2 linked regions of the Homo sapiens genome follow. The main gene of each other region encodes a partner of the protein of the gene in region 2 in a complex. Each region holds a gene or a part of one and is shown on either strand. Other genes may lie near its edges. The genes, in order: GNAI2 and P2RY12.

What was found.
Region 1: the proteins of P2RY12 (region 2) and GNAI2 are in contact, whole or in part, in a cryo-EM structure (PDB 7XXI), measured with the Homo sapiens proteins. Residues at the interface, in NP_073625.1 of Homo sapiens: Phe59, Asp121, Arg122, Lys125, Thr126, Pro129, Phe130, Thr132, Asn134, Pro135, Ile212, Leu216, Ser219, Tyr220, Arg222, Thr223, Arg224, Val234, Lys237, Ile241, Leu301, Cys302, Lys303; in NP_002061.1 of Homo sapiens: Arg24, Glu28, Ala31, Arg32, Leu195, Glu319, Ile320, Tyr321, Phe335, Phe337, Asp338, Ala339, Thr341, Asp342, Ile344, Ile345, Lys346, Asn348, Leu349, Lys350, Asp351, Cys352, Gly353, Leu354, Phe355.

Annotation. Positions count from the first base shown.
Region 1 is NC_000003.12:50,242,437-50,258,377, forward strand, and holds part of GNAI2 (guanine nucleotide-binding protein G(i) subunit alpha-2), read left to right. Parts: intron 1-4,473; exon of another isoform or gene 4,474-4,632; coding exon of another isoform or gene 4,633-4,639; intron 4,640-9,183; exon of another isoform or gene 9,184-9,237; coding exon of another isoform or gene 9,238-9,307; intron 9,308-9,663; coding exon 9,664-9,706; intron 9,707-9,960; coding exon 9,961-10,102; intron 10,103-10,587; coding exon 10,588-10,748; intron 10,749-13,755; coding exon 13,756-13,884; intron 13,885-14,286; coding exon 14,287-14,416; intron 14,417-14,500; coding exon 14,501-14,654; intron 14,655-15,063; coding exon 15,064-15,254; 3' UTR 15,255-15,278; intron 15,279-15,931; 3' UTR 15,932-15,941. UniProt on the Homo sapiens protein: Guanine nucleotide-binding proteins (G proteins) are involved as modulators or transducers in various transmembrane signaling systems.
Region 2 is NC_000003.12:151,373,025-151,389,677, forward strand, and holds the start of P2RY12 (P2Y purinoceptor 12), read right to left. Parts: upstream 11,730-16,653; 5' UTR 11,668-11,729; intron 11,195-11,667; coding exon of another isoform or gene 11,059-11,194; intron 10,865-11,058; coding exon of another isoform or gene 10,755-10,864; intron 9,722-10,754; coding exon of another isoform or gene 9,632-9,721; intron 7,201-9,631; coding exon of another isoform or gene 7,089-7,200; intron 5,150-7,088; coding exon of another isoform or gene 4,988-5,149; intron 4,155-4,987; coding exon of another isoform or gene 3,967-4,154; intron 3,851-3,966; coding exon of another isoform or gene 3,776-3,850; intron 3,191-3,775; coding exon of another isoform or gene 3,002-3,190; intron 1-3,001. Other genes in the region: MED12L (mediator of RNA polymerase II transcription subunit 12-like protein), read left to right, coding at 3,002-3,190, 3,776-3,850, 3,967-4,154, 4,988-5,149, 7,089-7,200, 9,632-9,721, 10,755-10,864, 11,059-11,194 and 2 more. UniProt on the Homo sapiens protein: Receptor for ADP and ATP coupled to G-proteins that inhibit the adenylyl cyclase second messenger system. Not activated by UDP and UTP. Required for normal platelet aggregation and blood coagulation.

The sequences.
Region 1 (15,941 bases), about 100 Mb from region 2:
GTGCTCTGCAAGGTGCTTTGGGGAAGGCAAAGGATTGGGCCCTTTGATGGTGTCCCTGGTACCTGATGCTCTCAGGCAGCCCTTCCCTCAGCTACAGGTGCAGGGTGGAACCCCGTCTGCCCAGCCCCACCCAGCCCTTCTAGCTTGAAGCTCTCGTTCTTACTAAACCCCAACCCCACCCTCACCCTGATGTTACTTCTTGGGGCTGTGGCTGCTCTTGGTGGCTGGGGAGGAAGAATCTTTCTGGAATAACCAAACATTTGCTGGGCTGGTTCTTCTGTGCCGGCCTCTGTGCACATTTACAAGGCTTGAAAGGCAGCACCACACCAGTCTGAGCAAAGGCCTAAAGGTGGGGTCATCTCAGCCTTGTTGGGGAGAAGATATCCTTATGGCTTGGAGGAATCTGGGGGCTCCAAGGCTGCTGACAGCCTCAGGATATGCAAAGGAGGTGATGGCAGCACCTACTGTGTGTGCCCCCGGCGGGAGGAGGAGGTAATGAAGTCTGCACGACATGGCAGGGCAGGGCTGGGCCTCTCGGGGAAGTGGTGTCCACACCAGAGGAAAAGGAGGAAGCAGCTGGGGGAGGAGGAGCCCAAAAGAGGAAGAGGCCAGAGGGCTGCCTGGTGCTAGGGTGGGGGTGAGAGCCCAAGGGCCCCCCAGGGCTTTGCCAACTGGAAGGGTCTAGGAGGTGAACACCTGCCCAGGCTTATCTTTGCACTCCTGTGGGCCATTCTAGTGGCGGTCACTGAGTTGGAGCCAGTCCAGGTAGCTCTGTACCTTGTCCCACCCCAGCAACCATCGGGCCCAAGATCCCAGAGAAGGTGGTGCCTTCGAGAAGGATTCCAGGCCCCTTCTTTGGCCACAGGAAGTTGTGGCTGGGAGAAGGACGCTGGCGGGAGGGCTAGCAGGAAGGCAGAGGGCTGCTCTTAGATTCCCGAGCGGCCATTGCTCTCCAAAGCCGGAAGGCCAGCCACAGGCTGAGATGAATGCCTGGAAATGCAGCAACAGCCCCGAGATGAGCTCACTCTGGGTTTCCCCTGCTGGGGGGCGGACAAAGGATCCCTGGCCTCAGCCTAAGGATTCTCCCCTACCAGCACCCACTCACTGGGTCTAGGGCTGCATTCACTGGGCCTGTTTCCCCTCAGGTGATAACCACAGCTGTCTCTGATTGAGCCTTGACTGTTGTGTGGAGCTGAATTCTTCATTATCTTGTCATATTTAATCCTGTGAGGCTGGGACTGATATTACACCCATTTCACTGATGGACAAACTGAAGCTCAGGGACTTTATGCACTTAAACAGGGAACAGAGATGTCAGGACATGACCCATGTAGTGATTAAGCGCCTGCCTCCAACTGCCATGGCCCTTTGGGAGTCTGTGCTGGCTGGAAGTAACGGATCAGGCAGGACAGCAGGCAGACGGTGTGGGTGCGTGTGTGTTCTGCCTGTGCCTATGGGCCCTGGCTTTCGGGCCTCAATTCTTCTTTTAGGAGGCGGAAAGGGAGCTGTCTGTCCTGGAAGGTGGGACCCAAGACTCTGTGTATGAAGCTTTCTACAGCCATGTGGTCATGGGGGACCCCCTCCACTCCTTTTTTTTTTTTTTTTTTTTTGAGATGGAGTCTCACTCTGTCACCCAGGCTGGAGTGCAGTGGCATGATCTCGGCTCACTGCAACCTCCGCCTCCTGGGTTCAAGCGATTCTCCTGCCTCAGCCTCCTGAGTAGCTGTGACTACAGGTACGTGCCACCACGCCCAACTAATTTTTGTATTTTTAATAGAGACGGGGTTTCACCATGTTGGTCAGGCTGGTCTCGAACTCCTGACCTCAAGTGATTCGCCTGCCTCGGCCTCCCAGAGTGCTGGGATTACAGGTGTGAGCCACTGCGCCCGGCTGCAGCTGCACCTTTTGACTTCCCACTTTTTCTCCTAGTCCGTATCCTCTCACAGTGATGCTCAAGTTATAGCTGGCAATTTAGGACTTCATTCTTTCCCTAATATTATGCTTGTTCTCCCATAAGCCCCAGTCTTAGACTGAGACCAAGCCTGGGGAAGGCTCAGAAGCTATTGAAGTCCATGGTGAGGGCCTCTGAGACTGGGAATTGTCCAGAGGAGTGAAATGAAAGCATGTTCCTTAGGGCTGCACTGTGAGCACAGGCTCAGTGCTGGGTGCACGTACGGTACTGTGTGGTGGTAGAATGTGGCCATGGTGTTGGCTGATGACTGCATGATAGTTGTTGAGGCTGGTTCCTCTTGCTCCTTGGCCTCCGAATCTCAGTGCTGTGGCCTAGTGGGGCCTTGCCCTCTCTTGTAGGGGTTCCTAGGGGTTCTGCTGTGTTGCCAGGCCAGGCCGTAAGGGACTGAGGGGGCTGAGGAAGGCTTAGGAGAGCCAGAGCAGAAGCGTCCAAGCCTCTCTGGGCCATGAAGCCATGCACAGAGCAGAGACCCGTGCATCCTCATGGCCACCCAAGACTGTGGGTCCCAGAGGGTCCAGTTCCTCACCATGAGACCTCAGACTGTCCTCTTCCCTCTCTGTATCCAGCACTAGAATCTGTGATGCTGTGATTTTTTTTTTTTTTTTCTGAGACTGAGTTTCGCTCTTGTTGCCCAGGCTAGAGTGCAGTGATGCAATCTCGGCTCACCACAACCTCCGCCTCCCAGGTTTAAGTGATTCTCCTGCCTCAGCCTCCAGAGTAGCTGGGATTACAGGCATGTGCCACCATGCCCGGCTAATTTTGTATTTTTAGTAGAGACAGGGTTTCTCCATGTTGGTCAGGCTGGTCTCGAACTCCTGACCTCAGGTGATCCGCCCACCTCAGCCTCCCAAAGTGCTGGGAATACAGGCGTGAGCCACCCCGCCCCGCCAGTGCCGTGATTCTTAGCATGGTCTCCTGGCCTGTGGACACAAGGACAGCTGCTGGCTTGGGTTGGGCCCTGAGGCAGTTTGGGGTGACTTTGAAGAGGCTACTCAGGGCAGGCCTTGGGTTTGGCACCCTCCCTCAAGGGGTACATTTCATAGATGAGGCCTAGGCTCCCGTTATCTTTCCCAGAGTCCACCGCCATGAATCAGAAGGGAAAAGAGGTCATTCAGGTGCCTTGGGAACAGCGGAGGGATGCCTGAAATGAAGAGGCCTCCAGGGAGACGGTGCCAAATGGCCCAGCTCCGCGTGATCCGCGTCTTGTCCAGCACCTCCTGGCTCCTGCACAGGCGGTACCTGGGGCCTGAGGCGCCAGCGATGAACAGGTCTGGGGCCTCCTTTATATCAGGCCAGCCTTCCTCACCCGGTGCCTGAGTTTCCCTCTGTGCAGTGGAAAGGGCCCCACTGAGGGAGACACACCTTGCCCCAGAAAGACTTTCCCATGTGTGGGCAGGACCTGAGGCCTCAGTTTCCCTAACACAGAGATCTCTGACTTGGCAGTAGGAAGCCAGGCCCTGCTTGGTAGTGCTCCCCTTTGGGCACTGTGAACCCCTGGAAGCCGCTGGAGGCAGCCGAGTGCCAGAGACTGGCGGGAGGGAGGTGTGGAGTCTGTTGGTCTGTTCAGGCATCCGTTATAGGGCCATGCCACACACATGGGTGGGAGTGTTGCCGGTCCCTTTCAAGACCTCGAGTCCCTGCCTCCCAGTGCCGGACCCGTGCTGAGCCTTCTCGGAGGGAATGAGGGGGGCCGGGGAGCAGCACCTGGAGGAAGGAAGAGACGCCAGGGGCGGGGCTCAGAGGGCCTTTGTCTGGCGGGGTCTCTGCCCCTCCCTCCCGTTGCCATGGTTTCTGTGTGTGCCGAGTCTCTGCAGGCTGGGGGCTTCCCAGGGACGGGCTGGTGGGTGGGACACCTTCCCCAGTCGCCCCTGGCTGAGGCTGCTTTTCTGAAACAAAACGCTCCCCAGTGCTGCCCAGCCCCCACTTCCTTCCACAGTGTCTCCGGCTGCCGGGCGCCCCCTGGTGGTGGCGGGGCATGGGTCCCTAGGACTGCAGGGGACGTGGGGGTGCACGGGATCTGAGAACCACAGGCTGAGCTGGAGATGTGGCACCTTCCTGGGATAAGAGAAGGAGGTGGTGTCCGGGCTGCCTTTGTGGTGGGCTCAGGGCTACCCCCACCTGCCCCACCATATCCCACTGGGATAGGCTGGGGAGTTGTGGCAGTGTGGGCGGGCCTGGTGTTGTGGGTTTGAGCTGGGCCGCTGCCCAAGTCTACCCTGTGGTCCCAGCCGCTGCTGCTTCTGAGAATCTCTGCCCTCGGGCCTGCCACGTCAGCTGGCTGCTCTTCCTGGCCCCACGTGTTCCCACGGAGCCCACCAGTATGGGGGTTCTCTCCAGGGAGGTGTGCCTGGCTTTCTGGGTGTGTGCAGCCAGTGAGCAATGTCAGCAGTGAGGCTCCTGGGCAGGAAGGAGGCCCCAGCTGTGTAGGAGTGCCGGGTTATACTGAAGGGAAGTGACGACACAGCGGAAAGCCAACAGAGGAGCCAGTAGCTCTGACTCCTGTCCCAGGTTATGCTGAGTCCCAGCAGGGAACCACCACAGCTCTGAATCAGCCTGTTAGCCGCTGTCCATTGCTCTTCATCTGCTCTTTATCTGAAAATCTTCAGAAGCTTTCCTTCAAATGAGATGACCACAGCAGTCTTCTCTGCAGGTTGCAGGAAATGAGAGGTTTGGGGAAATCTGTACTCTTTCAAAGGGTAGATAAATAGTGATAACTTTTACCTGAATGCTCACATGTGCCCCACACTGTGAGAAGAGCTTTGCATTTAATCCTTACCCATCTCTCAGAAGGAGACAGCGTTGTCCCATTTCACAGATGAGGTGCCAGAGAAAGGGCAGGAAAGGAGCTGAAGCTCTTGAGGATCTCAGGAAGGATCAGAGTGGACATCAGGGCTGTGGCAAGTCTGGACCTCCTTCTGGGAGAGGATCTGAAAATGGGAGGCAGGCTGGCTGGCTGCTTGAGGCTTGACAGCTCTGCCCAGGGGAAACTGAAGCCAGAAAGGATAGTAGCAAGTCCCAGCCTCCCAGCAGATCAAAGCCTATTAAGGAGTTAGAGGGTCCAAGATGAACAGATGCTGTGACTTGAATGCTGGGGCCTGGACTAAGCATCAAGTGACAAGACCTGTGGGCCTGTCTCTCCTGCTGCAGGGGCCCTGCTGGTCTTGTTCACGCAGGTGGAGTGGTACTGTCTCCCTTCTCTCATCGGTTCCCTCCTCTGGGGCTCAGCACTCCCAAAGTGGAAGCAGATGTTCTAGTGCAGAGCAGCTGCCACCACCCAGCACATCACTATGATTACTGCCTACCTGCTGTGGGCCCTAACTGCGCCACAGGGCAAAGGCTGCAGAGGTTTCTTCCTTGGTGGGAAGAGGTGTGACTCAGTGGGAATGCCAAGGCCACCCCAGGGAACCTCTGCAGGCCTCTCTGGTCTTACCCAGCTGGGGACAGAGCACTTGGTGGGGCCCTCTGCGGGCAGGAGGGGCTGATTCATGCCACCTTCTATTGCCTCAGTTCCCCTACCCAGCATCTTTGCAGAAATCTGGACTCAGGCTGGACGCGGTGGCTCACGCCTGTAATCCCAGCACTTTGGGAGGCCAAAGCAGGTGGATCACTTGAGGTCAGGAGTTCGAGACCAGCCTGGCCAACATGGTGAAACCCTGTCTCTACTAAAAATACAAAAATTAGCCGGGCGTGGTGGCACATGCCTGTAGTCCCAGCTACTGGGGAGGCTGAGGCAGGAGAATTGCTTGAACCGGGAGGCAGAGGTTGAACCGGGAGGCAAAGGTTGCAGTGAGCCAAGATCATGCTATTGCACTCCAGCCTGAGCAACAGAGCGAGACTGTGTTTCAAAAAAAAAATCTGGACTCAGCCACCCCTCTGAGAGGCAGGTGCGAGGGGAGCTGGGTGTGTGCAAAACTCACAGATAAGCCTCTTGCCAGCTTATCTGGTAGGGGGCATCCCTCAGGTCCTGATGGAAAGAGGACCCAGCCAGAGATGGGGAGAGTGAAGCTACTACCCCACAGCTGCCAGGGCACTTAGCCTGTGGGCTGCCCGAGAGCTCTTCACCCCACCCATTCCACCCAGATGCCATCCTGGGGCTCCACCCACCTCTGCTCCTGTCCCCCTTCTCTGCTGGAGCTGCTCCTGGGCTGTGCCCCTGCCTCTGTCCCGTTGTTCCCCCTGCTTCCTGCCTGGCTGCCAGCACCACACCCTTGTCCTGCCACTCACTACTTCCCGCCTGAGTCACAGCTGCTGGAAAGACAAAGAGACCAGCCTGAGTCTAGGGATAGGGGCTCCATGACCTTGATTTGCTTACCTGTCAAGTGGAACTCTTTTTTCAGTGACCCCTGCTTGGGATAGAGAATGTTCTCTTAACATTTAAGAGGCCTTAGGAGGGGAAAATGAAACTTGAAGGGGACAGGGAAGTGGGCCCTCCCTGGCTGGGGCAGGGAGCAGATATCCTGGCTCCTAGTGTGACTGGCTCTGTGCTGCCTACCTCATGTCTACCAGGTCTAGCTGCTGCTAGGAAAATCAGATGCAAAGCAAGTTTGCACCCTCGTCCCTGGGCAGGGTCACGAAGCGGCCCACATCACCTACTAAGAGTGGGCAAAAGGCCAGACCCCCTCTTCACTCTCAGTGGCCAGATAGGGAAACTGATGCCTCAAGTGGGCAGGAGTCCCGAAGTCACACAAGATGGGGAAGCTTTCACCCTAGACCTCAGGTCCCCCATGCCCTGGGTAGCTTCCCTGCTGAGTCTGAGCTCGCCTGGCTCGGGACTGCATGGGGACCCATGACTTCGCATCCTTGGCCTCTGCTCCTGCAGTTCCCCCCATCCTGGCTGTGACTGGCTCCTGGTTCTTCCTCCTGCTCTGGAGGAGCCAGTGGGGAAGACAGTCAGGTAGCCACTGCTGCCCTCCCTGCCCCAGTGGGTGCTTTGAGCCCCAGGGGGATGGGCCTTAAGTGTTCAGGCATCGCTGTGAGGCTTTCCTGGGACCTTTCCCCATGTCCTCATTGGCAGGTGGAGGAGTGTTGGTATGCAGATCCTGGCTGCCCCTTTGCCATGCACAGCCCAATGGGGAGGGAGTGGTGCTGGTATATATCCCGGTACACACCCCAGTGAAGATACTGGGCCCGGCCCCTGTAGTGCCCAGGGGCTAAAGCAATAGAGGGGATTGCTGCCCCAGCCACAGCGCCCCAGCCTTCCCAGGGCCTGCACATTTGTATGTCCACAAGATTGTGCAACCATCACTGCTATCTAATTCCAGAACATAATCACCACCCTCAAAAATAAACTTCATACCCAACTAGCTGTCACTCCCCATCTCCCCAGATCCCCTCCCCTCATCCTGGAAAGCAGGCCTGGGACAGTCAGAAGCTCAGTGATTGCAGGCGCCTGATGGCATTTGTGAGGAGGGCTCAGGCCTTTCCCCTCAGGGTGGTCTCTGGCGTAGGGGGCTGAAGGTGGGCAGGGGCCTTGGCAAGGCCTGCCACCATGTCCCAATGCCTGCTGCCGCTTGTTGAGCACTGCAGACATGGCCCAGAGTCTGCCTGGGGAGCTAGGGAGTGAACCCAGTGCCAGGTGGACTGTGTGGCTCCGCTGCAGTACCAGGTACTTAGGACAGCTCTAGGAGGGACTGCACGGTGGGCAAGTGTGCTCCCTGCAGAGGGGACTCTAACCCTGTGACCTCAGCCTCCCTGGACCTCAGTTCCTTCACTGGTTAGATTGGGGTGAGAATGGAACCTACCTCCCAGGATTGCTGTGGAGATGGCAGTTGGTGGGTGTCATTGATGTAGAGCAGCATCTGGCACATGGTGGGCGCTGTTTTCATATAGCTTTGCTGTCGATATTGCCGATGTTATTGTTACTGCTTGTGTTCGTTTGTGTGTTAGCACCTTCATCCTCTGAGGTTGTTTTGACCAGCCCCAAGGGATGCTGTTGAGCTTGGCCAGAGTACCCAAGTTTGACCTCTGCACAGACCTTACTACCCACCCAGCTAAGCTGCACAGAGGAACAAACGTGCCACAGTGATCAGAATTGGGACACTGTGAATGGGGCATGGGGCACGTATTCCCGGCAAAGAGAACAGCATGAGCAGGGCCCTGGAGATAGCTAGAGGTAGTGCCTGGCAGCTGCAGGTGTGACTGGCAGTGATGGAGCAGGAGCACAGGGTCTGGGAAGGACAGCAGGGCCCAGCTGGGGGCCATTCAACCTGGAGCTCAAGACAAGCCAGCAGCAAGGGAGCAAGGTCAAGGTGAGGCCCTGCCTCCACTCCCTCTGGCCCCCAGCCAGGGAGTTGGGTGGCCCCCCTGGTCCTTCTTTACACAGACTCCCTGGGTAATACAGGCTCCTGGGCTGCACTCCTCAAGATCTGGCTCTGTTGTCTGGGATGGGACCTGGGAGTCTGCTTTTTTTTTTTTTTTTTAGACCAAGTTTCGCTCTTGTTGCCCAGGCTGGAGCGCAATGGCACAATCTCGGCTCACTGCAACCTCCACCTCCCAGGTTCAAGCGATTCTTCTGCCTCAGCCTCCCGAGCCGCTGGGATTACAGGCACCTGCCACCACGCCTGGCTAGTTTTTGTTATTTTTAGAAGAGATGGGGTTTCAACATGTTGGCCAGGCTGGTCTCGAACTCCTGACCTCAGGTGATCCACCTGCCTCAGCCTCCCAAAGTGCTGGGATTACAGGCATGAGCCACCACTCCCGGCGGAATCTGCTTTTTTAAACACCTCCCCAAGGCATTGTCCCGCAGGGTCTCAGCCACATTTTGAGAATGGCAGGGTGGACCAGGCATCATGGGTTCCCTCCACCCTCTTGCCCTTCTGAGTCCTGGCTACATGATCTTAGATCAATACTTTATTTTTCTGAGCCTCAATGTCCTCATCTGTAGAATGGGAACAGAAACAGTATCTGCTGTGACTAATACAGGAGAGAATGCAGCAAATCTCAGTACCAGCTAAAGAGAAATATGGGCCAGGGCTGTACCAGGCCAGGGAAAAGCTTGAGTCAGTATGGGCGTGTGTGGGTGTGGGTGTGTGAGATACGCCGCAGGTCTCCCAGATTCATGAGTCAGTACGCGTGTGTGTTACACTGTAGGTCTCCTAGATTCTAGCCTTCTAGCCTCCATCTGCTCAGGGCAGACCTGAGCGCAGTGAGCAGAGGGCGGGGCATTGGGCCATGTCCAGAAAGCTGAAGTGTGACGCTGTGCTCCTGCTTAGGCCCCTGGTTGCTAAGGCTCAGTGTGGGGAGAAGAAGGGCTGCTACCCTGTTGGATGGAGTATGCAGGGCATCTTCCTGCCAGCTCTGCCCAGGGCACCATATTGGCATGCACCAGCTGCACAGGTTGGCGAGCCTATGTATGTGAGAACAGGGTGGCTCCTTCATGGCTGGCCAAGTCTCCAGCCAAGACCCCCCAGGACAGTGGGGAGCCATGGTGGGCAGCAGAGCTTGTGGGAGGCAAAGGCCTGCAGAGAGTCTGCCATGGGGCACAGGTGCTCTAGGTTACCTTGACCACTGTGGCCCTGCCAGCTGCATTCCTGGTAGCTCAACTGCCCACCAGGCCCAGCTGCCTCCATCTCACGGTGCAGCTGGTGGGAAGGTTAGTTCTGCCTCCTGGGCTACAGGTGTCTGGGCATTTGTTCTGTGCCTGTGGAGCCCCTCTGGGCCTGCCCCCTGACCACCTGTGCCCTCTGTTCCAGGTGCTGGGGAGTCAGGGAAGAGCACCATCGTCAAGCAGATGAAGTAAGTGCTGTATTCCAGAGGCAGTGCTCAAACTCCAGCTTCCCCTCTTCACCCTCTGGGCCTGCACTGCCCCCGACTACAGGCCCAGCCAGTCTTAGCCAGGCCCAGAATCTTCTGAGAAGCAGAAGGACCCTCAGGTCCCAGTGGGTCAGGGGCAGTTTTCCCTTCTCTGAAGCAGGTCCCAGTAGCCCCAGGCAGCCGTGGGAACTCCCAGTGCCCAGGGGACACTAACCTTCCTGGTCCCTGGCTATCAGGATCATCCACGAGGATGGCTACTCCGAGGAGGAATGCCGGCAGTACCGGGCGGTTGTCTACAGCAACACCATCCAGTCCATCATGGCCATTGTCAAAGCCATGGGCAACCTGCAGATCGACTTTGCCGACCCCTCCAGAGCGGTATGTGCCCTCCGCCCCACCCTCTCCCACCTCCCAAAAGGTTTCGGGGTGGCTGGTTGTGGTGGCTCATGCCTATAAATCCCAGCACTTTGGGACGCCGAGGCGGGTGGATCACCTGAGGTCAGGACCAGCCTGGCCAACTTGGTGAAACCGCGTCTCTACTAAAAATACAAAAATTAGCCGAGCATGGTGGCACGTGCCTGTAATCCCAGCTACTTGGGAGGCTGAAGCAGGAGAATTGCTTGAACCCGGGAGGCAGAGGATGCAGTGAGCCAAGATCGCCCCATTGCACTCTAGCCTTGGTGACAGAGCTAGACTCCGTCACAGAAAAAAGTAAACAACAACAACAAAAAGGTTTTAGGGCAAGTCTCATCCTAGGGAATCCAAGAATACCCTAGCCTGGGCCCCATTCCAGAGGTCTCCCTGCCTCTGGCAGAGTGGGGGTACATTCCTTCAACTGCCTGACCACCCGCCACTGTGCCCAGGACGACGCCAGGCAGCTATTTGCACTGTCCTGCACCGCCGAGGAGCAAGGCGTGCTCCCTGATGACCTGTCCGGCGTCATCCGGAGGCTCTGGGCTGACCATGGTGTGCAGGCCTGCTTTGGCCGCTCAAGGGAATACCAGCTCAACGACTCAGCTGCCTAGTGAGTGCTCTGAGGGGCTGGGCAGGGCAGGGCAGGGGCTGGGGGAGGACTAAAGGCTGGACCGGAGGGCCTGAGAACCCCCAGAAGGACACTGCTGGTCTTTGCTTATGAAACCGATGACTGTTAACCAAGGCCTTCCTGTTTTTTGGTTTGGGGGGTGGGTGGGTGTCACGTTACTGAAAGGCCAGGAGGAATGACAGGCAGGTGGCTTATACAGTACATCTCTTCCAGGCCAGTTGAGTCTGATCTGTCTTGACAGTCTTCTAAAGAACATTTGCGGCCGGGCGTGGTGGCTCACGCCTGTAATCCCAGCACTTTGGGAGGCTGAGACAGGCGGGTCGTGAGATCAGGAGATCGAGACCATCCTGGCTAACACGGTGAAACCCCGTCTCTACTAAAAATACAAAAAATTAGCCGGGCGTGGTGGAGGGCGCCTGTAGTCCCAGCTACTCAGGAGGCTGAGGCAGGAGAATGGCGTGAACCTGGGAGGTGGAGCTTGCAGTGAGCGGAGATTGCGCCACTGCACTCTAGCTTGGGTGACAGAGCAAGACTCAGAACATTTGCTGCCACCTGTTCTGTGCCAGGCTTCAAGGACACAGTGATGAGTGGAGCAAAGTCCCCATGCAGTGACAATTTAGGGTGTTAGTGAAAAGGTAGAGGTGGAGTTGGCCCAGAGACAGGATTGCTGAGCTCTGAAGGAGAGTCAGCCAGGGGAGGAGTGGATGAGGGGATTCCAGGCAGGGGCATAGCATGTGCAGCATCTCGGGGTGGTGGGGAGCTGGCTGTGCTTGAACATAGGCTGTGGAGGCTGGCTGGAGGGGGCCACAGGGGAGGAAGTTATCTGGGAGGTGACAGGTGTGTGTGTAGGTCAGAGCCCCTGGACCTCAGCTGTGACCCTCGCTGGCCCTAGGCTGAGGAATTACAAGGGGTCCCAGGAATCCCAGAGGCATGACAAGCCTGCACCCTTTCCACAGTTCTGAACTCCTTCCCTGTGGTATCTGTCATGTACTTGGACTGGTGCAGGGTGCTGAGGACCCCACGGGGAACAGGATAGACAGGCTAATAGCCATTGAGGATGGCTGCAGGGGACATCCACAGGCTTTGGATGGTGTCACCAGATAGGCTGCTGTCCCTGTACTCTAGCCTTCCCCTATCTCTGCTTAAGCCAGTCCCCTCTGACTGGAACACCCTTTTGCTCCTATTGTTCATCCAATCCTGAGCCTACCCATAGGGTGGATTTCAGCAAGGGTGGGTGGGAGGAGGAGGAGGGTCTTGCCTGGCTGTGATTCCTGAGCCCTGTCCAAGCCACATGAACAGCCTCCTCCTACCCTTCTTACATGGCCTGAATGCTCTTGTGAATATGTACCCCCTACAGGAGCTGTGGAGTCACAGCCAAATGCTGTGGGGGCCCCCAGGCCTCACCACTGCCCCTCCCTGAGATCTCTGGCCCAGCCACCAGCGAGCTTGGGGTCAGAGCAGCAGGGACCTTGGTGCCCATGATACTCAAAGGAAGCAGGAATAGAGCCACCTCCAGGCCACCTCCTGCTTCTCCATCATCCTCTTTCTCTATTCTCCAGACATTAGGCACCCACTGTGTGCCCAGCACAGTTTTGGGAGTGAATACAGGCCCTGTTCTCCCAGTCAGGTTTAAGCCTTGATAGCTCCCCCTGGGAATGGGTTGCGGATTGGAACACCACAGGAAGCAGGGCTCCTTCAGCCCCTCTTCGCAGCAACCCTCCAAGTGTGCAGCGAGTCAGGGGGTCCCTGGGGCGAACCCACCTGTTGGGGAAAAGGGAGAGGCTGGTGTGGAATGCACCATGGTACCTCCACATTGAGGACTCTGGCAGTAGGGGGCGGGGCATGGTATGCGGGTCACAGCACATGCGTCATCCTTCCCCATGGCCCTTCCTGTTTTTCTGTTTTGTCCCTGCTACTCTGAGATCATTTCCCTCTGGCCTGGTTTGGCCTGGGTGCTGGTGGGAGCCAAGGGCCAGCCCCAGCAGCCTTGCCCCAGGAATGAAAAGTCAGCTCTGGGCAGCAGCCTGGAGGCCTGGGACCAGCCTCCAGGGCATGGCAGGGATATTGAGGCAGGCAGCAGAGGCAGGCCCTGCAGGGGTAGCCTTGATACTAATTAAGGGAACTGGTAATGAGGAGCCCCTGGGACCCCTGCCAAGCAGGTGTCTGTGCCCTCCCCCTGAGGAACCCAGATTTCATTGGGCGCTGGGCAAAGAGCCCACTGGACCTGGCAGGCCCCAACCTGTCCAGCACCACATCGAGGGACCGCACCCGGCTGCTCTGCGGCTAATGCCGTAATTGCGCCCATTAGCATCCTGAATCCTTCACCGAAGGACTAATTTGCCTCCTCCCACCCTCTTTGCCTATAGCTCCAACATCCTGGATCCTGTCCGAGGCAGGTCTGGCTCAGACCCTGGGTGCTGGAGCTTGGCTGGCTAGCTGTCCACAGAGCTGCACCTCCTCCCATTCCCATTCTACAGGTGGGAGGCCGGGGGCTCTGAGTTCAGGTTTCTTCATTTGAGCAATGAGGTAATGCAGGCAGGGGTTAAAGAAACAAGGGCTGTGCCTAGGCCAGGCGCAGTGGCTCACGCCTGTAATCCCAGCACTCTGGGAGGCCGAGGTGGGCGGATCACCTGAGGTTGAGAGGTCAAGACCATCCTGGCCAACATGGTGAAACCCCGTCTCTACTAAAAATACAAAAATTAGCTGGGCGGCAGGCGCCTGTAGTCCCAGCTACTCAGGAGGCTGAGGCAGGAGAATCGCTTGAACCTGGCAGGCAGAGGTTGCAGTGAGCCAAGATCATGCCACTGCACTCCAGCCTGGCAACAGAGTAACACTCTGTCTCAAAAAAAAAAAAAAAAAAAAAAAAAAAAAGCAAGGGCTGTGCTTGAGAAATGGCATGGGAGGGAAGGGGCCTCTTGCAGCTGGCCCAGGGTCCAGCTAAGGAAGCCCCATGCTGGCCCCCACTGACCCTCCCACCCCCCATCCCCAGCTACCTGAACGACCTGGAGCGTATTGCACAGAGTGACTACATCCCCACACAGCAAGATGTGCTACGGACCCGCGTAAAGACCACGGGGATCGTGGAGACACACTTCACCTTCAAGGACCTACACTTCAAGTGAGCGAGCATGTGGACAGGTGGGAGGGGCAGGACCTGCCAGCCTCTGGGGTAGCAGAGGCAGGGGCTGGTCCAGGATCCCCCAGCCCCACTGAGGTTTTACAAGGCTCATGTGTTCTGGGCAAGCACATCCTCACCACCTAGTGAACCAGCAGTCAGGATCCACGCCACCTCTGCCAGCTGCTCACAGCCTCTGCTGCTCCTGCCTGATGTGGCTGCAGCCTGCCTGCTGTCCAAGCTCCTGGCCCAGAACCAGGGGTGAAGTGGGCAAGTGTGGATGATTCCAGAAGGTAGCTGCCCTACTCTGGGCAGGCCTCTGTCCTCAGTCAGCCAACCTGAGAAATGGGGTAGAAAGCCTCCCCCAGGCTCCCTTCCTGGAACTAAGGTGATCTATATCTGCAGGATGTTTGATGTGGGTGGTCAGCGGTCTGAGCGGAAGAAGTGGATCCACTGCTTTGAGGGCGTCACAGCCATCATCTTCTGCGTAGCCTTGAGCGCCTATGACTTGGTGCTAGCTGAGGACGAGGAGATGGTGAGAGGATGAGAGAATGCTGCGGGTGGGGGCAGCGGGCTTGGGGAGTGGTGGCTAGCGTTGACCTTGCTATTCTACCCCCAGAACCGCATGCATGAGAGCATGAAGCTATTCGATAGCATCTGCAACAACAAGTGGTTCACAGACACGTCCATCATCCTCTTCCTCAACAAGAAGGACCTGTTTGAGGAGAAGATCACACACAGTCCCCTGACCATCTGCTTCCCTGAGTACACAGGTGTGGGGACTGTGGGGATAGGGCCTCCAGAGGGTTGCTTCTTGTCCCAAGTAGCCTATGGTGACCAGGTGGCCCTCAGGCGCCCCCCACTGGACAGAAGTGTAACCTTGGAACACTGGCAGGGGCTGGTGCCTCACTTAGGCTTGTATAGTTGTGTGTGCACACATGAAGCCCTTAACACACTCAAGCATGTACCCCTGAACATGTGTACATGGGCATCCTCCTTCACACAGTGGGGTACCCCTTTGCACATCTGGCATGTATGGGCAGCCACAAACATTGTCATATTATGCACATGCATGCACAGGTTGTATGCCTGGCCGTCCACACGCACAGACCCTTGCTGCACACGTAGGATGCGGCCTGCCTGCCACACATGCAGCACAAGTCTTCATTTTCTCTCCCCCAGGGGCCAACAAATATGATGAGGCAGCCAGCTACATCCAGAGTAAGTTTGAGGACCTGAATAAGCGCAAAGACACCAAGGAGATCTACACGCACTTCACGTGCGCCACCGACACCAAGAACGTGCAGTTCGTGTTTGACGCCGTCACCGATGTCATCATCAAGAACAACCTGAAGGACTGCGGCCTCTTCTGAGGGGCAGCGGGGCCTGGCGGGATGGTGAGCCAGAGGGGCTGTGGCAGGGTGCTGGGGAAGAACTAAGCGGGCCTGGAGCCCCAGCAGGGGGTTCTGGGGGTGGGTAGGGGGGTGAACCTGGAGGGGGAGGGGCAATAGGTGACCAGGGGACAAGGGAGGAGAAGGCCCAGGGTGTGAATCAGGAGGTCAAGTGAGTGAGGTGCAGGGCATGGAGGAGGTCATACAAGCAGGCCTGGCCCAGTGGTCCAGACAGAAGGGCCTGGCCTTGCCCTGGGACAGAACCAGAGGCCATCCTGATGTTCCCTGGAGAAATCTCACCTCCTCACCCACCAGGCCATTGGCCCAGCCTGCCGGAAGCTGCATGCCAGCGGAGCCCAGCCCTGCTGCCCACTACCACCAGCTCCATGTGCACCTCCAGCTCTTGCCCTCTGACTTGTCTGAGCGTCCCGGGCTTAGGCTGGCCCCACTGGCCCTGGTGGAGGTGGGGATGACTCTCCCAGTGCCACAGACTCCCCTCCCCCACGTAACCCAGCAACAGAAACTGGCTCCTGGGCGGCAACTGTGTCCCTGGTAACAAATGGGTAGGAAAAATAGAGAAGGGTCATTGTCTAGGGAGGCGGGAGAGAGGCACGCCCTGGCTGCTTCCCGATCCATGCTCTGCTTTCCCCCACCTCCAGGGCCACCGCC
Region 2 (16,653 bases):
CTATTTTTTCTGAATCATTTAAGAGTAGATTGTATATTTTATTCTTTTGAATATTGCATTATTTCATAACATAACCAAAATATAGCTATTAAACATCAGAAAATTTAGCTTTTGGTACAGTAATTTTTTCTCATCTATAGGCCACAGTTCGATTTTATTAATTGTCCCAGTATTGTTGGATTTGTCTGAGGTTTCCTGTAGATTAGCTTCAGATTATGCATCCCTGGCCAAGATACTACAGAAATAATCTTGAGTTCTTTCAGGTAATCATGTCTGAAGGCATGTGATGTCCATTTGCACCTCAAGGGTGATGTTAATTTTGATTAAGATGTTTCCATTGTATAGTTTCAAGATTAGTAACTATACAGTGGGGACTGTGTAGTTACTAATTTTCCCCTTGCAGTAAGCAATCTTTGAGGAGATACTTCGAGACAGTGCAAATTTTCTTCTCCTTGTTTAACTCCCCCACCCCTCATAAGCATTCATTTTCATTCTTGCCCAGTCTAGTCTTTACTATGATGGTTGCAAAATGGTGGTTTTTTTTTTTCCCCAACTTCTCCTCTCCCTTCATAATATCAGTTTGTGTCCTATTTTAAGGAAGAGCCTGCCCTCCTCTCCCCTGTTTATTTATTATCCATATGGGTTATAATATACTGTACTTAGTTATTTTCATGTTCAGACTGTCCCAGATTTGTGCAGTAGGAATCTATTCATCCTATCACATCATTTGACATTTTAAAAATAGTTGGTATTTTCATAGTTTCTGGCCCATGTTGTACTTTCTCTGCCCCGGGCCTGGAATCAACTATTCCTCCAAGGAGCCCTTGGTTCTATTTAGCAGAGAACGTTACTGAGAAACCAAGATCTGGGTATTATGTATGCTCATGGTTATGGAGTATCATTAATTCTACGACCTGTCTGCAGACAAAGCTAGAAAGAAAAATATATCCATACACTTAAATATATGTAAATATATATATTTATGAGGTCCTACTGATACCTTCAATTCCAATCCAACCCCACAAAGTTGTTCTGTGTTTTCCCCTAATTCATATTAGTATCACCTTCTTCCCTAGTAAGAATGCTGATTCCCAAAAACGTCAATTTACTTGTTTGTTTAATTCTATGATACATCTGAAATAGTTTTAAAATGTTACACATGGCCGGGCATGTTAAATGTGCTATCCAGCGCTTTGTCAAAAAATGATTAATTAAAATACAGTATCAAAAATGTACACTAGGCTAGGGCGCAGCGGCTCAAGCCTGTAATCCCAGCACTTTGGGAGGCTGAGGCAGGTGGATCACTTGAGGCCAGGAGTTTGAGACCAGCCTGGCCAACATGGTGAAACCCCATCTCTACTAAAAATACAAAAATTAGCCAGGTGTGGTGGCACATGCCTGTCATCCCAGCTACTTGGGAGGCTGAGGCATGAGAATCGCTTGAAACTGGGAGGCGGAGGTTGCAGTGAGCCGAGATTGCGCCACTGCACTCCAGCCCTGGTAAGAGAGCAAGACTCTGTCTCAAAGAAAGAAAGAAAGAAAGAAAGAAATGTTACACACATACCACTAGGAAGAACAAACCTACCTAAAAGGCTTTGAAGATTTGTTTGCAATTCCATTTTCTCTAAGGGTTTAAAATACTGTGTTCAAAAATTATTTGAACTTTTCCCATCCCTATGAGTGTATTCTTTATGTGAAATAGAACTAGGTTCATTTGGTTTTGCATTATTTAAATTCCTTTCTTGTCCCCAGCTCTGGCTATAGAATAGCTTACTTTCAAAAGTGAAACTATACAAAAAAGTATACTCAGAGATGTGTCTCCCTCCCATATCCCTCTTACCAGATGATCCAGTTTTATTATTTTTTGGTTTATTCTCCCTCCCATATATTTGTTTTAAAAGTTCTCTTATAAAAAAAAAGTGACATACCTTATATATTATTTTGTACTTTGCTATAGGTGTCATACCGACTGGGTCATGTTTTTGTATTTTTACAGGCATGTTATAACTATGGTAAAAGATAGCTACATAGTCATATAAGTATTGAGAGGCAATTGTGTGTTGGTTCCCAACTGTGAGTGCATATTGGAATCAGCTGGGGCATTTAAAACAATTTGGATGCCTAAAAAATTACTGATATTTGGGTGCCACCACCTGAGTTTGACTTAATTAGTCTGATGTGGGCCCTGGGCATGGAATTTTATAAAGATCCCAGGTAATTTTAGTGGGCAACCAGCATTGAGCCACTGGTATGGTGGTTAAAAAACAGACTTCACCCGAAATAGATCTGGGTTCAAATTGGGCTCTGTTACTGTTGATGATTTCTTACTTTATTTAGTATAATAATTTGCCTTTGAAAAAAATGGTAAAGAAAAGGCAATAGGAGTTTAAATTGGTAGAAACTCTTCAGAGGGTCATTAACCCCATGCATCTATAGCCCCCCACTCACACTGGACCCAGCAATTGCACTTCTATGAAATTACCCTAAGAAAATTATTGTATAAAAAAGAGATGTGCACTACTACTCATTTATAATGATAACATTATTCATAATAGTATCAAAAAGGAAGATCGTTTTCTAAATATTTGTTATACTATGTTGTATCTAGTCAGTGAGATAGTACAATGTATTCCATAAAAATTATGAAGAACGTATATCTGATAGAATCATTATATAGCAAGTTAGAAAAAACTGACACAAAATAGTGCCTAGAGCAAGACCTTACTTTCCAGTTAAAAACATACTAATATTCTCTTTATTGTCTTTTCTTTTTTCCCATTAAAAAATGTTTTTAAGCAAGTTCTACTTTGTATTTTTTAGAAGCCAAAATGCTAAAAATTTTGTTTTTTAAAATTTTTCTACCTACTTTTTAATGTAATTTTTTAAATTGGAAAATTCCTATCAGTTTTCTATTCAATTATGCACTGTGGATTTAGTACATATTGCATATATATATACCGAAAGCCAGTGCCTGTCAATCTAATTGCCATATTATTTTTAGGAATGGGTAGGAGAGCATTGCTTAAAAGAACCTGAAAGATTATGTACAGACAAAGAACTTATATTGGACCCTGTGCTTTCAAATATGCAAGCACAGAAATTACTGCAGCTTATCTGTTATCCTCATGGCATTAAAGAATGTACCGAGGGGGACAATCTGCAAAGACAGCACATTAAGCGTATTCTTCAGGTCAGTCGTATACAGATTGTGTTTCTGTCATTTGATAAATTCTTCGTAATAATAAAAAGAGTTACTTCCTCTCTTTTTTTGTCCTTGCTAATTTGTGATTTCAATTCTGATTTTTATTCCCACACATTTTCTGTGGAATTGACATACTTTATTTTTGGGTGGATGTACATGCTGCAAATTGTATATGATCATCAAACAAATATTGATATTTTAAATCAGTATTGTATTTACATGAGAAATATGCTTCAGAGAGGGGCTATGTTAAATATATTATTAAAGAAATATTGAAATCATTTTGGATTGGGATTGGTTAAATAGATTTTGAAAGGAGAAATGCTTATTTAGTTTCAGTGCATAGCTGAGTCAGGCACAGTATTAACTAATTAATAATTAATGTTTCTGTTTATTGGTTTGTATCGCTACTGAATATATATGCAGCAAGATTGGGAACCTTTTGACTCATATAAATTATTTCATTGTGTATGATTATTCTGCTCTTTCTTGAGAGAAGGAGTACTGTAAGAAATTACTGTATTTTAACACATTTGATACCCATAATGTTTTAATTCTTTCCATTTTTCCCAGAATCTTGAGCAGTGGACACTGAGGCAATCCTGGTTAGAACTCCAGCTAATGATCAAACAGTGCTTGAAGGACCCTGTGAGTTTATATTGAAAGCTTATCTCTGTATGAAATTTTATAAAAAGCAAAAACACGTTGATGTTTGAGGATAAAGGAATACACATATGTGCCAGTATTCTTATATCTAACTCTAGGGCTCTGGTTCTGTGGCCGAAATGAACAACTTACTGGACAATATTGCAAAGGCAACAATAGAGGTATTCCAGCAGTCTGCAGACCTAAATAATTCTTCTAATTCTGGCATGAGCCTCTTCAACCCAAACAGTATTGGAAGTGCTGATACAAGTAGCACGAGACAGAATGGAATAAAGACATTCCTAAGGTATTTTTGTCTGTTGTTTTATTGAACTGTCATGAATTTTTCACAAGTAACGGTAAATTTTGTGTAGCACAGTGATTTTTCTTTAAGTCATAGGAATGTGAAGAACATAGTTACTTGTAAGCAGGGATTATTATTAATAAGTTAATGAGTAAAGCTGGGGTGAATGATAGCTTCGGAATATTTGATTGAGTAGGCTTAAACACCTTGAAACTGCAGGTGAACTCAGGTTTGGTTCATGCTTTCAGTGTCCCTTAGTCTACTGTGTTACGTAGTATTCATTATATGGGAAACGCTTTTTCCACCATTTTTATTAATTAATTATTTTGCACAAATATATCCTGGTAATTTTTGTGCAGAATTAGAACCAGTAGGCATATAAAGTCTTAAAGTAATTATTTAATCATGAAAGGCTGATTTGTATTTCATCATTTTGGTATAAAGTATAACTAGCGAATTTTAAACCTTAAAAATTAGCTATTAGTATGCTTACATATAATATTTCATATTGTAACTGTGACAGAAAAGTATATTGTTTGTTGGACAAAGTGATTGTTTTTAATTAGAGAGAGGGGGTCATCGGAAAACATTAAAGTCAGTTTAGTTACAATATCCTTCCAGAACTGCATGTTTTATTGCTTTCTGTAGGCTTAGGTGGAAAGCTCATGCAAATGTCTAGTGTTCGGAAAAAGGAAAGATAATACAGAAATAAAAGGGAAATTTTAGAACAGTCTGTGTGTCTCATACATCAAAGTTTCGCTTTGGAGTTTCTGTTATAACTGTGAGAGCAGGGGAAAGGATGCTTTCTCCGGTGTAACACCTGTTTCTGATTTTAGTTCCTCCGAACGCAGGGGTGTATGGTTGGTGGCCCCCCTCATCGCCAGGTTGCCAACTTCTGTGCAAGGAAGAGTGCTGAAAGCCGCTGGGGAAGAGCTGGAGAAGGGACAGCACTTGGGTTCTTCTTCCAAAAAGGAAAGGGACAGACAGAAACAGAAAAGGTGTGGCTGGAAGATGGGCGTCTGTGTGAGAGTTTAAAGAATAATTGAGAAAGTCTCACTTCCTGTAAACCTGTGTGGTCACTGTACCCACAGTCCACTGAAATTTAGTTTTTAAATGGAACTGGGAATATTCTATTAGGCAAGGCTGTCTTATTCCTAAAAAATTTCAGGTTATAATCCTTAATACATTAGTTCTCAATTCTGCCTTTATATCCAAATCACTGCTGAACTGTTAAAAACAGTGATTTCCGAGACCCGCTTTAGACCAACTGAATCAGATCTGGATAGCTACCTGATCCCTGTATTTTATTTTTAATTATTTCTATTTTTTTATTATTTAGATATTTATGTTTAAAATAAATATAATGTATAATTCTGGCATGTTGGTGTCTGAACTAGTTGCTCATATTTTTAACATTTAGGGCTCCTGTTCTAGACTAGACATTAAGACTCCTCGGCCACCACAACTAATGTTTTCTTAATTTATTTTATGCCCAAGAAAAGGTTTCAAGTAATTATATTTGAAAACCGTGTTACTGAGAAAGAAAGAAACCTCACCCTAATGTGAAAATGCCAAGAAACCTAGGAGTAAAGGAAAAAAATTGATAATTTCTTCCATTAAAAAAATATTTTAAGCACATAGATTTCTTGTCCACTAATGAATAATACTATAGTAGCCACCATTTATTGACTGCTTACAGAATGGCAACTCCTCTCTAAAACTCATTATGTACATGAGCTTTTAAAATTCTTATAGCAATCATGTGGTAGGTACTCTCATTATCTTCTTTATATCATGTTGAAACAGACACTTAAAGGTTACATGAGTTGCTCCAGGACACACAGTGAAGGACATAAAGCCTGGGTTTAAATCCAGGAGGTCTGGCTTCTGAGCTTGTGCTCTTAACTACAGTACATTTTGGTAGAGACCCAGCATTGTATGTACTGTATTTGTTTTACATCTGGTTGTTTTACCATGTTGGCCAGGATTAATTAACCAACAAGGAAGCATAATTCTAATTTTCAAATCATATTTGCTGATAGGTGAGTGTATGTGCATTGCCTAACTTCCCATAGGCAGGACAGATGGTATTGAAGAGACTTGAAAGATCGCTCTTCCCACATCAGGGGCTCTTTATTCTGCCCATGGAGAATAATGCTGATTGAAATATTTTGGCCTAGGTCTCATTTTAAGAAATTTGTCTTTCCAACATGGCGCTTTGTTTGTCAATATGATTTGTTGATTATTCTCTAATTGAAGACATTTTGTTAAAATGCCAATTTAAAACAGAATTTTTAACCAAATGCCTTGACACCTCTTTACCAGTGGATGCTGCGGGCTATGTTGGAGCCTGTGGGCTGTGTTGGAGCTGCACACTAGGGGTCGCCAGCAAGTACACTGTTTTTGGAGTCCTCAGCCCTGGCTGATGAATTAGCTCTACTAACACCCTGCTTTTTGGTCTTGGGAAATGTGCTGAAAAACAAAATCAAACCCCAAAACAAGCTCAACAGACATATATATAGGCCTGTTTTCCCAGACTCTAAAACAAGAGTTTTATATGAGAACTTTAAAAATTTTTAATTTTATCCTGTGTATAAATTGATATTCTTTCTGATGTACATTTTTAAATTCTGCATATTGATGTAGAAGATGAATTCACTGTCTTCTACCCTCACTGCCCGGCATGCTCACATGCAGTATGGTTTGATGCTAGTTTGAGAATGGCTTCGAGGGCAATTAGAGCATACGAAGTGATTTAGAAGCATTACAGTGGCTTTTAATTTTATAAGTAGAGGTATGATTTAAATTTTCAAGCAGTCTTTGGCTATTTACCACCTCTCTTATTTATCTAATAGTGAGGCAAAGAAATGAATGTTGCCAGAGGAAGTAATGCATTATTTCTAACTAGATCTGTTGTTATTATTACTTCCTTTGTAGTATGTCTCTTTTGAGTCAACAACCCTTCCTCTCACTGGTACTTACCTGCCTTAAGGGACAAGATGAACAAAGGGAAGGCCTCCTAACATCTCTCCAGAATCAAGTTAACCAGGTAAAGTATAGTATAATATTAAGACAGGCAAATATCTTTCTAACGGCATTCATTTATTTGCCTTTCAAATACTGAGATTAAATTAATAAGGGCCAGGTGTGGTGGCTCATGCCTGTAATCCCAGCACTTTGGGAGGCGGAGGCTGGTGGATCACCTGAGGCCAGGAGTTCGAGACCAGCCTGGCCAACATGGTGAAACCCCGTCTGTACTAAAAATACAAAAATTAGCCGGGCATGATGGTGTGCGCCTATGATCCCAGCTACTCGGGAGGCCAAGGCAGGAGAATTGCTTGAACCTGGGAGGCAGAGGCTGCAGTGAGCTGAGATCGCGCCATTGCACACCAGCCTGGGAAACAATAGTGAAACTCTGTCTCAAAAAAAAAAAAAAAAAACAACTAGTAAGGTTACAAAATGTTTTGAGTAGACGCTGAGAAACAATCCATGCCTTATTCTTCTACCTGGCATTGTAGACACCACAAGATTAACAACTTTATATTAATGAGATATATACAATAAATGTGTACTGCCTATAAAAGTAAAATTTTATATATTGCATATAACTTTGAACTATCTGCCCGTCTCCTAACTCTGCCTCATAGGAGAGGACCTGGAGCAATCTATGCTGCAGTAGGCATGGCAGTGAGTCCAGCTCCTCAAGCTTGGATGCCACATTATCAGGCACGCTTTCAGCTTGAAATCTGTAGGTTCAGAAACTCAGTTGTATTGATGCCAACCAAGTACACAAGAAATAAATCAGAAGGCATGTTGGTTTATTTAGAAATAATTTGGACATTGCCTTTTCACCAAACACAGTTCTCCTGGTCACTGTTTGAGGCTCTTGCATCTATGTACTATAAGGAAACTGAGCATTCACAACAGAAATTGGAGAGCATGGAATTAAGCAAAGTGGATAGATTGGTCTTATGAGGTGTTTTATCCTGATACACAGCCTAATTGACCCCTTCTTGTGGCACTGTGTTTCTATGACACCATGTCTTTCCCTCGAATGGTACTAGATGGACATGGACAAGGACACTTAATCTTATTTGATCCTCTTGTCATTTCTCACCTTTTGGGTAGGAGAGATCTAGATATAGCAATCATAGTGAACCTTTTTAAATGGAAGTCACATATTACCTCAGTATACCTAGTATAAAAAATTCGGGCTGATAAGGCCAGACATGATTTGACACTGGCTCTCTCTCCTACCTTGTCTCCTACCAGTCATGGCCCTCTTTCCTCCATGGTTGTTGCACTGGCCATGTTACTGTTCTTGAACTTGCTGAGCAAATTCTCATTTCAGTGCCTGTGCATCTTTTCTTCCCTTTAGGTGGAAAGATTCCCTTCCAGAGATTAGCATGGCCTGCTCCCTTCATTCAGTTCTCTGTTAAGATGTTACCTCCTTCGGGAGGCCTTTGATCACCTCTAAAAATAGGACCACAGCCATTCTGTATGCCATTGCCATGCCTCAAACCACTTGTTACACTTAGTTTTATTTGTCCCACTACTATTATTTGAGCTCCATGAGAGCTTGTTGTTTAGTTAACTACCTTGCCCCCTTAAGCCAGCCTTAGGGAGGGGTTCATTTCTTCTGATGAGATTTGGGAAGTGCTTTCCTCTCACCTTGCAGGGTACTTACAGGTCATCTGTTGGGATGGAGTACTTCTGCATGTGACTCATTTGAACTCTTTTAAGATGACTCTCATTAATGACCATATTTCAGAGCATGATAGGGTTTTTGTTAGTGGTTTTTTGTTTTTGTTTTGAATTGCACTTTTTTTTTGCTCATCTCATCTGATTTTAGGGTGTTGCCCACTTGTGGCTCCCTTTCCTAAGCAAATTTTTCCTTTTCCAGCATTAGTGTGAGTCAGTGAGGAAGTGAAGAAGCAGCCCACTTTATAAACTGATAAAGCCACTTGGCTGATGTCTGCAATGCCATATTTTTCAAAGTACCGTGCGTTCTCTTTATCAAGGAAGACACATACATAAGATAGCAGACCTTCTCTTCTATAAAACATCAAAATAATACATTTGCTAGGGTTCAGCAAGTCCCTAGAAATATAACAGGACTGAGGCAAAATGTAATTCTCTCTCTCCAGTGTTTTTCTTCGTAAGATCAATGAGGTAATGTATTTTAAAAGTTTTTATTAATGCTTAATTTGATGGCCCTCTCAAGCATTTTCCCAGACTTAATCATAGGCTAGCTATATAATTATATAAGATTTTCTTCCTCCACCTAGAACGGCAAATGCACAAATAAATAGCCAGATTTCTTTCTGCATGGAGGAAGAAGAAAGCTAAAATTTTATTTAGCTTTGTTTGTTAATTTGTTAAAGATAAGAAGTGGTTTTTTGCTATCAGTATAAAGCTCAATTTATCTTTAAATGAGAGAAAAATTAAACTTTAATGGGGAGTTTTTTTCCGGATCTTAGATTTTAAGTAACTGGAGAGAAGAACGATACCAAGATGACATAAAAGCGCGGCAGATGATGCACGAAGCATTGCAACTCCGCCTAAATTTGGTAAGTGACATTTCTAGTATTTTCCCTCCATTAAACATATTTACATGTGAAAATACCTCCAGCTTTCCACTTCTCCTAAGTGCAAAGTCTGCATTACAAGGTGAGGCCTTCCACTCTTTGCTCTCTGTAATTACTTCCCTGTTTCTAAAGCCTTCTGTTTCCCTTGCTGCTTTCCTTCCTGTCTGGTCAGACATCTAGACAGTGCTAGGTATTTTAAGCATAGATTTGCCTTCTCTACCTCTACCCCAGTGAATCTCTCCTTCTCTTCAGTTTGTGCTAAGAATAAATCTGAGAAGACTGTTATAAGTGTTAGCTTCTACTATACTTACTTAAAACCATTTAAAAAGTCTTTTAACTCAAAGTTTTGTCCAACTTTCCATCAAATTGATTATAAAGACAAATCCCACAGAGAAGTTTTATAGAAATTTAAAATGTCTCACATATTGTGCATTCCTTGAGTTTTCTTTTCCCATCAGGCAGGCCCAAGTGCAGGCCCCTCTGGAGGATGGCCTGCCTGATACTTTTGCAGTTGTTTCTAACCTTGTCCCAACACGTGAACTGGTAGGTGTGCGGGCCAAGCCTCCTGCCCACCACTGCTGTGATAGTGGATGTTTCCATATGGTATTATGATAGCAGGCTTAGATTCAATAGTAATTGTACAGCAAACACAAAGATGCAGATAATTGGATTACATGACTTTGACATTATTCAGGTTTAATTCAACTATAATTGCATCATAAAACTGGACATCATAAAAGATTTGGAACAAAAGAAAGCTAAGTTTATTGGTGCCCACATTCAGATACTCACGTCCCTTCTTCATTTTAGTTAATGTTTGAATGACTGAACTGTGCTGAAAGAACTAAAAATAGTGATAAACATGTAGGTAAAAGAGAAAAGATAAGGTAATCTATAAACTAGAGCATCCCTTGTTTTTTTAAATAAAAAACAATCAAAATTTGATAACATAAAGCAATGGGGTGTTCTTTCTGTTTTACAGAATGCAAATATCTTACTGTATTTTGTCTGCTAGGTAGGAGGAATGTTTGACACGGTGCAGAGGAGCACCCAGTGGACTACAGACTGGGCCCTGCTACTCCTTCAGATCATTACTTCAGGAACTGTTGACATGCACACTAACAAGTATGTTTTTATCACTTCACATTGATTTTGCTACATGTATGCATGGTATAAGCTTTGATATACTGATGGCGATTTCTGCCACATCTTATTTACTTGGATGCTATTAAAAATTCTGTGCCTTGAATAAAAATACTCAGTTAAATAAGTGTATTTCAGTTTCACTTTAAGATGAAAATAATTATTTTCTTTCTTAGTGAATTATTCACAACAGTTCTTGACATGCTGGGTGTTTTAATCAATGGAACGTTAGCCTCTGACCTATCAAATGCATCCCCTGGGGGATCTGAAGAGAACAAGCGTGCATACATGAATTTAGTAAAGAAACTGAAAGTAAGTTTGAGATCAGCCTGTATTATGAGCTCAAGTTGTTTATGGATTTATTATCTAGTGCATTTTAATTTATTACTCATTAAATGTTATTAATTGTATTCAACTTAATTTAATGTGATTATTTGCTATTTGTTTCACCTAACCTTATTAGTACCCAGAAGTTACATGCACATAACCTTGATTATTTTTTATTGAAAACAATTACATTATAAAACATGTTTAATTTTTTAAAGAACTTTAGAAATCCACTGTTAAATATATAACCAGAATACTAACATTAGATAGATTTAGGATAACTCTATGCTTGGACTGGCACGTGTAATTGAAAAAATAGCCATCTGCATTGAAATTTATAAATCGATTCATTTGACCGACCACTAACAGACTCCTTTAAAAAAAAATTGTAAGAAAACAGTGCAAAAAAGAAACCAAATAAATCTGATGCATTACCAATCAAATAAATCAATGGTTACCTTGTAATCTGACCCTGGACATGAGAAAGTGTTCTGTTCTGCAGCTCCTGTCTTCTGATTGTGATCACTACCCTGGATTTTTGTCATTTCAGCACTATGATGTTTGTTGTGTAACAACAGTGCCTTTGTATGTGTTCTATTTTCTACTTAAATAGAAGAAATGAAACACTCATTGCTCTATTTGGAACTGCCTTGTAGAACATGTTCAGGGTTAAAGAACATGCGCTAAGCTATAAAAAGGGAAATGTTTCATAGGGGAACTTCCTTCTGGTTAACTTTTGCCTTCATTGTAATTTCTGTCCCACTTCTCACTCTCTCTCTCTCTCTTTTTTCTTTAGAAAGAGCTAGGAGACAAGCGATCAGAAAGTATTGACAAAGTTCGACAGTTACTACCTTTGCCGAAACAGACATGTGATGTCATCACTTGTGAACCTATGGGTTCCTTGATTGACACAAAAGGAAACAAAATTGCTGGATTTGACTCTATAGATAAAAAACAGGCAAGAGTGAATGTTTTTTCTTATATATAAATTTATTTACAAAAGATGAAATACTTTTTTTTGTCTTACCATAGGATATATAAAATATATTAATTTTGCTGTTGATGTTTTTAAGGCATATGCTTGTCTTCTAAGTGTACTTAGTCATTGGCATTATCATATAAAGAGGTCATATCTTTGAAGATCTACGTTTTATATGTTTAAAGGACTTAAAATGTTTCCCTGAATTTAAGTAAATTTTTGGAAACCTACCAAGAGAAAACTAAGTAAAAGCTTAGTGTAAAAAAAAAATTGCATAAATAAGTTCTGATTATACTTCAGATTTAGAAGCAGAATATATTTATCAATGAAAAATTTCTTGTAAGCTGAGCATGGTGGCACATGTCTTTAGTTCCAGCTACTTGGGAGGCTGAGGCAGGAGGATTGCTTGAAGCCAGGAGTTTAAGGCTGCAATGTGCTAGGCTCATGCCTGTGAATAGCCACTACACCCTAGCCTGGGCAACAAAGTGAGACCCTGTCTCTGGGGGGGGAAAAAAAAAAAAAAACCTTCCTGTAGTAAGCTATTTCAAATAAAAATTATTTTAATTGTTAGGATATTCTCTATTCCTATCAAGCAGTATTTAATGGACATTTGTTTTATATAAGATATTAAAGATGGTTCTCTAAAATATGAGAAAATTGGTCAGTTACTCTTTTAATGAACAGTAAGCAACCACCGACATTCCACAATCACCAAGATGAAAGACAGAGTTCCTACCCTCAAGGGGGAAGTAGACAGACAATTACAGTGTAATGAGATTTGTGTGACATGGTACAGAGAGAGTATTAGGGGATAGAATAGAGGGTCCCCAGGAAAATTGACACGAGTCATTTTGAAGGATTAAGAGTTAGCTGGGAGGTAGGGAAAATTGTGGTACAAATAAAGGGAGAGTTTATATGAAGACATGAAAGAATCAGATTTACCAGGGAATTTAGAGTAGCCTGAGAATCTAATACCAGTTTGTGTAAAGAAAAAAAGCTAAAGTCATGGTCAAGTTTGAGTTTGCAGTGTCAGCGGACTTCCTGGTAGTAAGACATCTGGAATCCATTTGGATGTGTGGTTTTTACACCAAGGAAAAAGTTCTCATCTCAAGACAAATATTAGGAAACAGTCAATTTACAGGTGGCAATTGAACCTTGGTTTTATTTTGTTTTACTTTGTTTATTTATATTTTTTGAGATGGAATCTCGCTCTGTCGCCCAGGCTGGAGTGCAGTAGTGCGATCTTTGCTCACTGCAACCTCTGTCTCTCGGGTTCAAACGATTCTCCTGTCTCAGCCTCCTGAGTACCTGGGATTACAGACATGCACCACCAGGCCCAGCTAATTTTTTTTTGTTTTTGTCTTTGTTTTTTTTTTTTTTTCAAGACAGAGTCTTGCTCTGTCACCCAGGCTGGAGTGCAGTGGCGTGATCTCGGCTCACTGCAACCTCCACCTCCCGGGTTCAAGCAATTCTCTGCCTCAGCCTCCTGAGTAGCTGAGATTACAGGTGCCTGCCATCATGCCTGGCTAATTTTTGTATTTTTAGTGGAGACGGAGTTTCACCATCTTGGCCAGGCTGGTCTTGAACTCCTGACCTCGTGATCCACCTGCCTCAGCCTCCCAAATTGCTGAGATTACAGGTGTGAGCCACCACACCTAGCCTTTTTTTGTATTCTTAGTAGAGACGGGGTTTCACCATGTTGGCCAGGCTGGTCTCAAAGTCCTTACCTCAGGTGATCCCACCCGCCTCAGCCTCACCAAGTGTTGGGATTACAGACACGAGCCACTGTGCCTGGCCTGAACCTTAGTTTTAGATGAAGCTACTCATAAAAGAATGCATATAGATAACAACAGTAACACTTACATCTTAGGGAATGACTGAGTAGTTATTTGGGGGCCATTTAAGGAAAAATATTTTTAAATTGACATTTTAAGGCAAGTGCCAAGAGATGTCACCAATTAATGTTAAGAATAAAAAGAGGGTAACCGTTTTTTTTTTTCTAGAGTCAGTAAATATAAGCTTGAGTTGAAAGACTTTACTTATTCCTGCTGCTACAATTTAATTCTCTAATAATAATATTATATTCAGAGTATGGCTTATTAAGTACAGGGCCCACATATTGAACCAAGTTCATGCAGATTTGGATTGAAGTTAATACTAACCCAATTACAGGTTGACTATAACTTGACTCTTAAATTTGATATTATCTTCAAAATTATAAATAGATTACAGAGATTTAGAACTGGTTATAATTTAGTAAGATTAACTTTGCAGTGTTAGAATTTTTAGCAACAAATTTTTAGAATTTTTTTAGCAAAAAGAGGAAATACACATTAACAATAAAATATGCTAGACTGCCTCTGTTGCCTAAACAGAGCATCATGTGGTTAAAGAACTGTAGAACCGGGCTTACAAAGGTCTGAATTCTAGCCACTGCTCTCCGGTGATGTAGCTGTGTAACCCTCTCTGCTGTATTCTCGGGTTCTCTAGGGCTCATGCCAGCCAAAGTGTTCTCTGACTCCATGTCCCATACAAGCCTGGCCTATGAATAAGGAAAAGATCTGAGTGTGCTATCTTAGAGCGCTATTTTCCCACAGGGTCTCCAGGTCTCTACGAAGCAGAAGGTGTCCCCGTGGGACTTGTTTGAGGGTCAGAAGAACCCAGCTCCTTTGTCCTGGGCCTGGTTTGGGACAGTCCGAGTGGACCGAAGAGTGATCAAGTACGAGGAGCAGCATCACCTCCTGCTGTATCACACACACCCCATGCCCAAGCCCCGCAGTTACTACCTCCAGCCACTGCCCCTGCCTCCTGAGGAGGAAGAGGAAGAGCCCACATCTCCAGTTTCTCAGGAACCAGAAAGGAAGTCCGCTGAGCTGTCAGATCAGGGAAAAACCACAACAGATGAAGAAAAGAAAACAAAAGGAAGGAAGCGCAAGACGAAATCTAGCTCAAGAGTTGATGTAAGTGGGGAAAGGAAGGAGAACCTTGGCTCATTAGCATTTAGTATGAGATTTACTCGTGCCCAAATCATATCCCTCGAAACATTACCAAGAGCAGGATAAGTTTTGTTATGACAGTTCTCCTAACAGGTTTCTGCATTAACTGAATGGCACACAATGACTTGTCACAGACAAAAGATTAAAGCTTTTGATTTTCCGTCCTCCACTTTTAATAATTTTATTTTAATTGTAGGCTTCCATTGTAATATTTAATTAATATTTCAGTGCCTCCTAATTTCCTCGGGTTTGAAACTTGAAATTTTTAGAACTATACAATCCCATTCTCTCACATATTTTTAATATGTCTAAAATATTTATTGTATTTTAAGTGGTTGATATCTTCAGTAAATTAACATAAAAAGCTCTATTTGGTTTTTCTTTGATAAAACTTGGAGTTAGCATAGCCAATAGGATGTTCCTGAGATTTTATGTTTTACTATTCCATCTTACCCTCATATATTTTCCTTCTTTACCATGTTTTCAGACTTTATAAAAGATGAAAATAAGCCTAATTTAAAATAGTTTTACTTCTTGTTTCTCTATTAGTGTTCCCCACGTATAATAATCTTTTCATTACAACAGAAATCTATTTGATGGTGATTTAGAAATAATTTTATAAACCTTGAGAAGTAATGCATAAAATGTTTTTCTATTTAAATTAAATTAAAACCTGGAAAATATTTGATAGAGGATTTGAGACATTTTTAATGAAATTCCACAGCATTCTTGCTGCACAGTGGAAGAAATATTCACCATTTCATTCAGATATTCATGATTGGTTATTGTTTACCTATGTGAGAACTAAAATACATCTTTTCCTAGCTGATAGCTTGGTGATTAATACTATTTTAGAAATGACCACCACCACTTTAGGATGCCACTTGAGCATCAGTGCCCCCTTCTCATTCAGTCTTCCTACCAGTATTCCTTTGTCTTGAAGGGAAGTTTAAAATGGTCCAGACTGACACTCCCTCAAATTTGGGGTTTCCAGCCTGTCAGTCCACGTGGATGGGCTTTTGTTCTTTTCTGATGAAAAAGCCCTGAAACCAATCCTGCTCCCCAGGTCAGTCTGGTCATGTCCCCTCTTCCTCTATTCTTCCTGAAGCTCCCTCTTTTCAATGAGATATGCTCTTCAGTAAAATTGCAGGGAAATGAGATTTTGTTTCTCTTCCATCCTCTAGGGCTAGACTAGATGAGGGAAGGTAGGGAAATTGAGACCTTCAGGTGTGATCCTTACAGGCTTTGCAGCTACTATAAGGAAGAGGAAGCATGGGGGATGAGGGGAGTGTCTACTTCTTTAGAACGATGTCTGGAAAATTGCAAGTGAAATACCATCTTGGCCAAAGAGTGGTTCTGAAGCACTGTAGGGCTCTCTGGCGTAATTCTCCAGACCCAAGATATTGGAAAGGCCTTCTAAGATGAAATGATCATGAGTCTTAGCAACTGAAGGTGCTTTTTCAGTGATG